2 linked regions of the Homo sapiens genome follow. The protein of the gene in region 2 interacts with the protein of the main gene of each other region in a biochemical or structural test. Each region holds a gene or a part of one and is shown on either strand. Other genes may lie near its edges.

Evidence for each region. The genes of interacting proteins can lie anywhere in the genome.
Region 1: the proteins of SH2B3 (region 2) and ERBB2 form a complex in vitro, tested with the Homo sapiens proteins (2 studies listed by BioGRID and IntAct, with this or other methods).

The regions. Positions count from the first base shown.
Region 1 is NC_000017.11:39,716,990-39,720,638, reverse strand, and holds part of ERBB2 (receptor tyrosine-protein kinase erbB-2 isoform a precursor), read right to left. Parts: intron 3,573-3,649; coding exon of another isoform or gene 3,471-3,572; intron 3,320-3,470; coding exon 3,159-3,319; coding exon of another isoform or gene 3,155-3,158; exon of another isoform or gene 2,982-3,154; intron 853-2,981; coding exon 805-852; intron 1-804. UniProt on the Homo sapiens protein: Protein tyrosine kinase that is part of several cell surface receptor complexes, but that apparently needs a coreceptor for ligand binding. Essential component of a neuregulin-receptor complex, although neuregulins do not interact with it alone.
Region 2 is NC_000012.12:111,419,408-111,423,056, reverse strand, and holds part of SH2B3 (SH2B adapter protein 3), read right to left. Parts: intron 2,649-3,649; exon of another isoform or gene 2,569-2,648; intron 1-2,568. UniProt on the Homo sapiens protein: Links T-cell receptor activation signal to phospholipase C-gamma-1, GRB2 and phosphatidylinositol 3-kinase.

The DNA of each region.
Region 1 (3,649 bases), on a different chromosome or scaffold from region 2:
GGATAGATGGAGCTCCCGGGTGTTGATCCAATATTCTTGTCACCCTCTCCTCTCCATACCCCCTTGCTTAGCACAGGGTCTGGTACATACCAAGCCTGTAACACATGCTCATTTCACGGACCGATGATCGCCTAAGACAGACTCCAGTCTGTTTTTCTCCCCAAAGTCCTTTCCAAAGGTCCCCACTGCCCAGTCAAGTCCCACCCTGTGGCTTGGGGATCAGGTCCTATGGCATCCAGGTCAGACCCCACCCTGACTCTAACTTGACCCCCTTATTCCTGTGCTTACTCAACAGCCCCCGACACCAGAACTTTGAAGACATCCTGGATTTCCTGATGCCTCCCCCTCCAGTGTCACCTTGCACCCCAATGCTTTCTACCTAAATGCAAGTGCAATACCTGCTCCTCTCTCAAAGCCTAGCTCAAATGCCACCTCCCACTCGAAGCCTCCCACCATCCCCAGTTAAGAATTCATCACTCCCTCAGTGCTGCAGCTGTACTCTTCTCAGTCTCCCTTGACTTCCAAGGAATTGAACTTTGCCTGTGTCCCTCACAAGGCATCAAGTTACTCTAGGGTGTGGAGGGACTGGGTTTCCTAGCCATCTTTCCTTGCAGTCCCCTCCCCTCAGCATCTGAGCAGGTCCTCTGTCACTTGGTGAAGTGGAAAATGACAGGAGGTTCCACAGTGGAAGAGTGGGTGGGAAGGGACATATGTCAGGGGGTCCCCTCCCTACAGCAGTGACCACCCAGCATCCAGTGGGGGAGTGAAGGGCAATGAAGGGTACATCCTGGGGTCCAGGCCAACCTGGCTCTCTGCTCGGCGGGGCAGCCCTTGTCATCCAGGTCCACACAGCTGCAGGAGAAACAGTCTCATCAACAATTCTGGGAACCACCCTCTTGGGAACCACCTTTCCAGCCTCACAACAACCCTGGGAGGGGTGTGGCTGGGTCATTATCCCCATTTGACAAAGGCAGAAACTGGGCTCAAGGCCGTCAGTGCTCCTTCTACCACCTCACAAGGAGACTCCTTCTCCAGCCAAGGAACCGGCATGCCCCGCTCCCCTGCAGCTCCTTGTGGTGGATAGGAAGCGGGGAGGGGCACCCAGAAGAGCAAGCCCGGGAGCTCAACTATTCCCTCCATAGAAGAATCCCAGGGTAAACCCATACCACTTCTCCAGAGAACGGTTTGGCAATACCTATGAAATATCATCTATGACCCAGCAGTTCCTCCTCTGAATATAGACTGTACATACTGTTTGCAAATGCTTTTTTCACTTAGCAGAATCTTGCAATGTTTTTCCATGTTCTAACACCGTGATCTGGATCTAGGATCCATATGGATCTGGACCCATATTCTTTTTTTTTTTCTTTTTTTTCTTGAGAAGGAGTTGCACTGTGTTGCCCAGGTTGGAGTGCACTGGTGCAATCTCGTCTCACTGCAACCTCCGCTGCCCAGGTTCAAGCAATTCTCCTGTCTCAACCTCTCAAATAGCTGGGATTACAGGCGCCCACCACCACGCCTGGCTAATTTTTGTATTTTTAGTAGAGACGGGGTTTTGCCATGTTGGCCAGGCTGGTCTTGAACTCCTGACCTCAGGTGATCTGCCTGCCTCGGCCTCCCAAAGTGCTGGGATTACAGGCGTGAGCCACCATGCCCAGCCTGGATCCATATTCTTTTAATTTTTCTCATTTAGTTGTCTTTAAATTGAAATGCATGAATATATCCTTGTGATAAACATTGCCAGCACTGTATTCCCACTAGGGGGCATACAAAAGAGGGCTCACTTGTGTGTGGAGCTCAATTGCAATAAACTGCAAAAACAGGGAAACAAGCTCAATATCCCTCAAAAACAAAGTGAAATTACATCCATGTTACAGGTTGAGTAATTAAAAAAAAAATAAAGGTGGTAGATCCGTCTGTACTCACAAGAAAGGATACCTCAAGTCGGGGGGAAAGCAAAGTGCAGAACAGCATCACCACACCTGGCTAGTTTTTGTATTTTTAGTAGAGACGGGGTCTCGCTATGTTGGCCAGATTGGTCTCGAACTCCTGATCTCAAGTGATCTGCCTGCCTCAGCCTCCCAAAGTGCTGGGATTACAGGTGTGAGTCACTGCGCCCAGGCTCTTGACACTTTTTGGTTTACACAAACAGCAATCTTATTTGACTCGACCTAATATAAATGTAGTATGTCTATATAAGTGTGCAGAAAAGAGCCTGGAAGGGTGAACACACAAGTCAATGCGGTGGTTCTCCCAGCAGACAGGAGAGACTGGGTGGACAGGGAGTTGAGTGAAAGGGCACGTTGGCTTTGTAACATTTATACTTTTATGTTACTGAAAATGTTTATCACAAGGATGTATTCATGTGTTTCATGTGTAAAGACAACTAAATAAGAAAAATTAAAAGAATAAGGTAGATCACCATGTTAGAACATGGAAAAACATTTCAAGGTTCTGGAAAGTGAGAAAAAGCAATTTGCAAACAATATGTATGATCTATGATTCTATTTGTTAAAAAGAAATATATGACTGGGCATGGTGGCTCACCGCTGTAATCCCAACACTTTGGGGGACCGAGGCTGGCAGATCACCTGAGGTCAGGGGTTCGAGACCAGCCTGGCCAACATGGTGAAATCCTATGTACTAAAAATACAAAAATTAGCCAGGCAAGGTAGCACGTTCCCGTAATCCCAGCTACTCAGGAGGCGGAAGCAGGAGAATTGCTTAAACCCAGGAGGTGGAGGCTGCAGTGAGCCAAGATTGTACTACTGCACTCCAGCCTGGGCGACAGAGTGAAACTCCGTCTAAAAATACATATGTGTGTGTGTGTGTGTGTGTGTGTGTGTGTTAAAATGTGCACAGATAAAAATAACTGGAGAATAATATTAATATATGTTAACTTATATATACATATTAGAATGTGCACAGACAAAAATAACTAGAGGAAAAATATTTCAAATTATTAACAGTGGGGATAGAACTGCTAGGGCATTAATTTATATTTCATGTTTTAATTTTACAATTTTAACAATGTGTTATTTTTGTCATCAGAAACAAGATATGACAAAGGGAGAGTTGGTCCCCTTTTATAGTAAGAGCCCCAGAAAGACCCCTGAAAGGAAAGTCCTCCTTTCTGCAGAAAAGACCGTTGGACTCACGAGTGGGTGCAGTTGATGGGGCAAGGCTGGCATGCGCCCTCCTCATCTGGAAACTTCCAGATGGGCATGTAGGAGAGGTCAGGTTTCACACCGCTGGGGCAGCGGGCCACGCAGAAGGGAGGGTCCTTATAGTGGGCACAGGCCACACACTGGTCAGCCTCCTGGGGGGGGCAGAAAAGATTTGTGGGGGGCTGGCACTGACACCCCCAGGGCAGTAGGATCAGGCCCTTAGTTGGGTCCCCTTTGTGCTTCCCAAGGCCACCCAGCAGCAATTTTCGCCATGCTCCTGGGACAAACACCCTTGCTCTTCACCCAGTCTCTGTGGCCCCTCCCTCGGGGCCCTCCTCCAAGCTTGATCCTGGGCAGGGACTTGAGCCAGAAAATGGGAGGCACCCAGAGAGGAAAACGCATTACCTAAGGTGTAACAGCGAGTAACAACAGTCACTGCTCTGTAGAAAGCCTTTCCCGTGCTTCACTGTGCCAAGCCCTGT
Region 2 (3,649 bases):
GCTGTTCCCTCTGCCTGGAAGGCCCAGTGATTTACTTAGAATGAAAGTAAGTGACCTCCTGGCCAGGCGTGGTGGCTCGCACCTGTAATCCCAGCACTTTGGGAGGCCGAGGCGGACAGATCACCTGAGGTCAGGAGTTCAAGACCAGCCTGGCCAACATGGTGAAACCCCATCTCTACTAAAAATACAAAAATTGAGGCCAGGTGAGGTAGCTCACGCCTGTAATCCCAGTACTTTGGGAGGCTGAGGCAGGTGGATCACGAGGTCAGGAGTTCAAGACCAGCCTGGCCAACATGGCGAAAACCCATCTCTACTAAAAATACAAAAAATTAGCCAGGCGTGGTAGCATGCGCCTGTAATCCCAGCTACTCGGGAGGCTGAGGCAGGAGAATCACTTGAACCCAGGAGGCAGAGGTTGCAGTGAGCCGAGATTGCGCCACTGCACTCCAGCCTGGGCAACAGAGTGAGACTCCATCTCAAGAAAAAAAAAAAACAAAACTGCTTTTCATGAAAAGCCAGGCCATAAAGGTAGGAAATGACTTTTAAAACGCAAAGAAATTGTCCAAAATATATAACGACTTTTACAAATCAATTTAAAAAAGGCTAGACAGACAATAAAAACATGTACTTCACAAACGACCAAATTCCGATGACCAATCAACATATGAAAAGGTGCTTAACCTCCATGAGTCATCAGGGAAACGCAAAGTAAAGCCACCTTGAGATCCAGGAACGCAGCCACCGGTGACTCTTAACACCAAGTGCCTGGCTAACATGGTGAAACCCCATTTCTACTAAAAATACAAAAATCAGCTGGGTGTGGTGGCACGCGCCTATAATCCCAGCTATTTGGGAGGCTAAGGCAGGAGAATCAGCTTGAACCCAGGAGACGGAGGTTGCAGTGAGCCGAGATTGTGCCTCTGCACTCCAGCCTGGGCAACAGAGCGAGACTCCGTCTCAAAACAAAAACAAAACAAAACACAAAAAAACCCACCAAGTGCTCAAGTGTTGGTGGGGAAGTGGAACCACCCGGAACTCTCGCCCACTGCCGGTGGGACACAAAATGGTGCAGCTGCTTTGGGAAAAGTCTGGCAATTTCTCTAAAGTAAACATGTACCTACTCTATGACTGAGCAATGCCACTTCTAGGAATCCACCTGAGAGAAATGAAAGGATGTGTGTCCATATTTAGACTTAGATGCAAACTTCATAACAGCCTTATTCATAAATCAAAATAGAAACAACCCAAATATTCATCAACAGAGGATGGGATAAACCAGTTGTGGGACATGGAGACAGCTGTGCAATGGAATCTATTCAGTACTCAAAAGAAACAAACCCGGCTGGGCGTGGTGGCTCATGCCAGTAATCATAGCACTTTGGGAGGCCGAAGTGGGGGGACCATTTGAGCCCAGGAGTTCGAGACCAGCCTTGACAACATGGTGAAATCCCATCTCCACAAAAAATACAAAAATTAGCCAGGTGTGGTGGCACGTGCCTGTGGTCCCAGTTACTCGGGAGGCTGAGGTGGGAGGACTGCTTGAGCCCAGGAGGACAAGAGGCAGAGGATGCAGTAAGCTGAGATCGAGCCACTGCACTCCAGCTGGGTGACAGAGCGAGACCTTGTCTCAAAAAAAAAAAAAAAAAAAAAAAAAAGGAAGACACTATTGACATGTACGATCAATGTGATCAATCTCTAAAACATTATGCTGGGCAAAAGGAGCCAGAAATAAAAGGCAACCTATTTATTAGCTGGGAGTGGTGGCACGTGACGGTGATCCCAGCTACTGGGGAGGCTGAGGCACAAAAATAACCTGAGGCTGGGAGGTTGAGGCTACAGCGAGCCATGATCACACCACTGCACTCCAGCCTAGGTGACACAGTGAGACCCTGTCTCAAAATAAAATAATAAAATAAAACAAAGGCAACCTACTGTGTGATTCCATTCACATGATGTTCAAGAACAGAGAAATCGAACCTGTGGTGATAAGAGGTGGTATGTATGGGGGTACAGGGCACTGGCCTGGGGGAGGCATGAAGGAGCCCTCTGGGGTGCTGGTCACTTGCGTTGCACACACACGGAAACACAGAGCTTCAGATGTGTCTCATACTTCACGCACTTCCAGGTCTGCATGTTACGCCACAGTCAGTTTGAAAACGTTACTTCAAAGGATTCTTGGATGACTCTCCCAAACCGCCAAACCGGGACCCCTCAGTTATCCTCCCAGAGACCCCATTGCTTTTCCTTTAGAACACAGTTTACCAGTTTTAGAACACAATTTACCATTTTTAATTCCATGCTCATCTGTGGGTTTATTTCCTCAACAGCCTCCACTAGGCCCGCCTGGTCCCCCAGAACCTAGCATGTGCCTAACACATAGTAGGTGCTCCATAAATATCTGTCGAATGAATGAAAGAGTAACCATAGGTTTCCTCCACCCACATCGTGAGCCCCTCAGGGCCAGTATCACATCGGTTTTGCTCATGCTCTAGAGTAAGGCCCTACCACGTAACAGGATCCCAAAGAGAGAGCAATTAGATGAAAGCCATATGGTCCTGTCATGCATACCTGAGTCAAAGATGGAGCCTGGCAGGTGAGTAGAACACAGTGACCTTTCAGCCTCAACAGCACAGTAGGAATTAAGCCAGCTGTGAAGGAAAAGAACTTTTTTTTTTTTTTTTTTTTTTTTGAGACAGGGTCTCGCTCTGTCACCCAGGCTGTAGTGCTGTGGTGCGATCTTGGCTTACTGCAGCCTTGGTCTTCTGGGCTCAAGCGATCTTCCCACCATAGCCTCCAGAGTAGCTGGGACCACAGGCGTACACCACCACGCCCAGCTAATTTTGGTATTTTTTGTAGCAATGGGGTTTTGCCAAAGGACAAATTCTTTTTAACTTGCAAAATATCACCAAGGCACAGGAGGTGCAGAGAAATTCTCTGAAGGTTTTGAGCCCTCTGGAAATAAAACACCAATCTGTCAATGCCAGTCTGAGTCAGAGTTTTCAAGGATCTCAGAGTGACCTGCTACCAGCCCACATGACACCCAAATGTGAAGGCAAAAAGGTGTCCCTGGACATTGTACAAAATCCTTGACTGGTACTCCTCAAAACTGCCAAGGCTATCAGCAATAGAGGGTTGGAAACTGTTACAGCCAAGAGGCGCCTAAGGAGACGTAACGACTAAACCTCATGTGGTATCCTGGGGGGCGAGCTGGAACAGAAAAGGGACATTAGAGGAAAACTGGCAAAGCCAAAGGAACAGTGGCGTTTAGCTAATAGTGATGTACCCGTGCTGGTTCCTTAGCTACAACCAATGTACACAGCAGCGTAAGATGTGAACCTTCGGTGAAGCTGGGTACCATGTGTAAAGGAACACTACTATCTTTGCAACTTTCCTGTAAGTCTAAACATTTTTTTTTTTTTTGAGACAGAGTCTCACTCTGTCACCAAGGCTGGAATACAGTGGTGCAATCTTAGTTCACTGTAACTTTCCCTCCCAGGTTCAAGTGATTCTCCTGACTCAGCCTCCCAAGTAGCCGGGATTACAGGCGTGCGCCACTGTGCTCAGCTAATTTTTTATATTTTTAGTAGAGACAGGGTTTCACTATGTTGGCCAGACTGGTCTTGAACCCCTGGCCTCAAATGATCTGCCC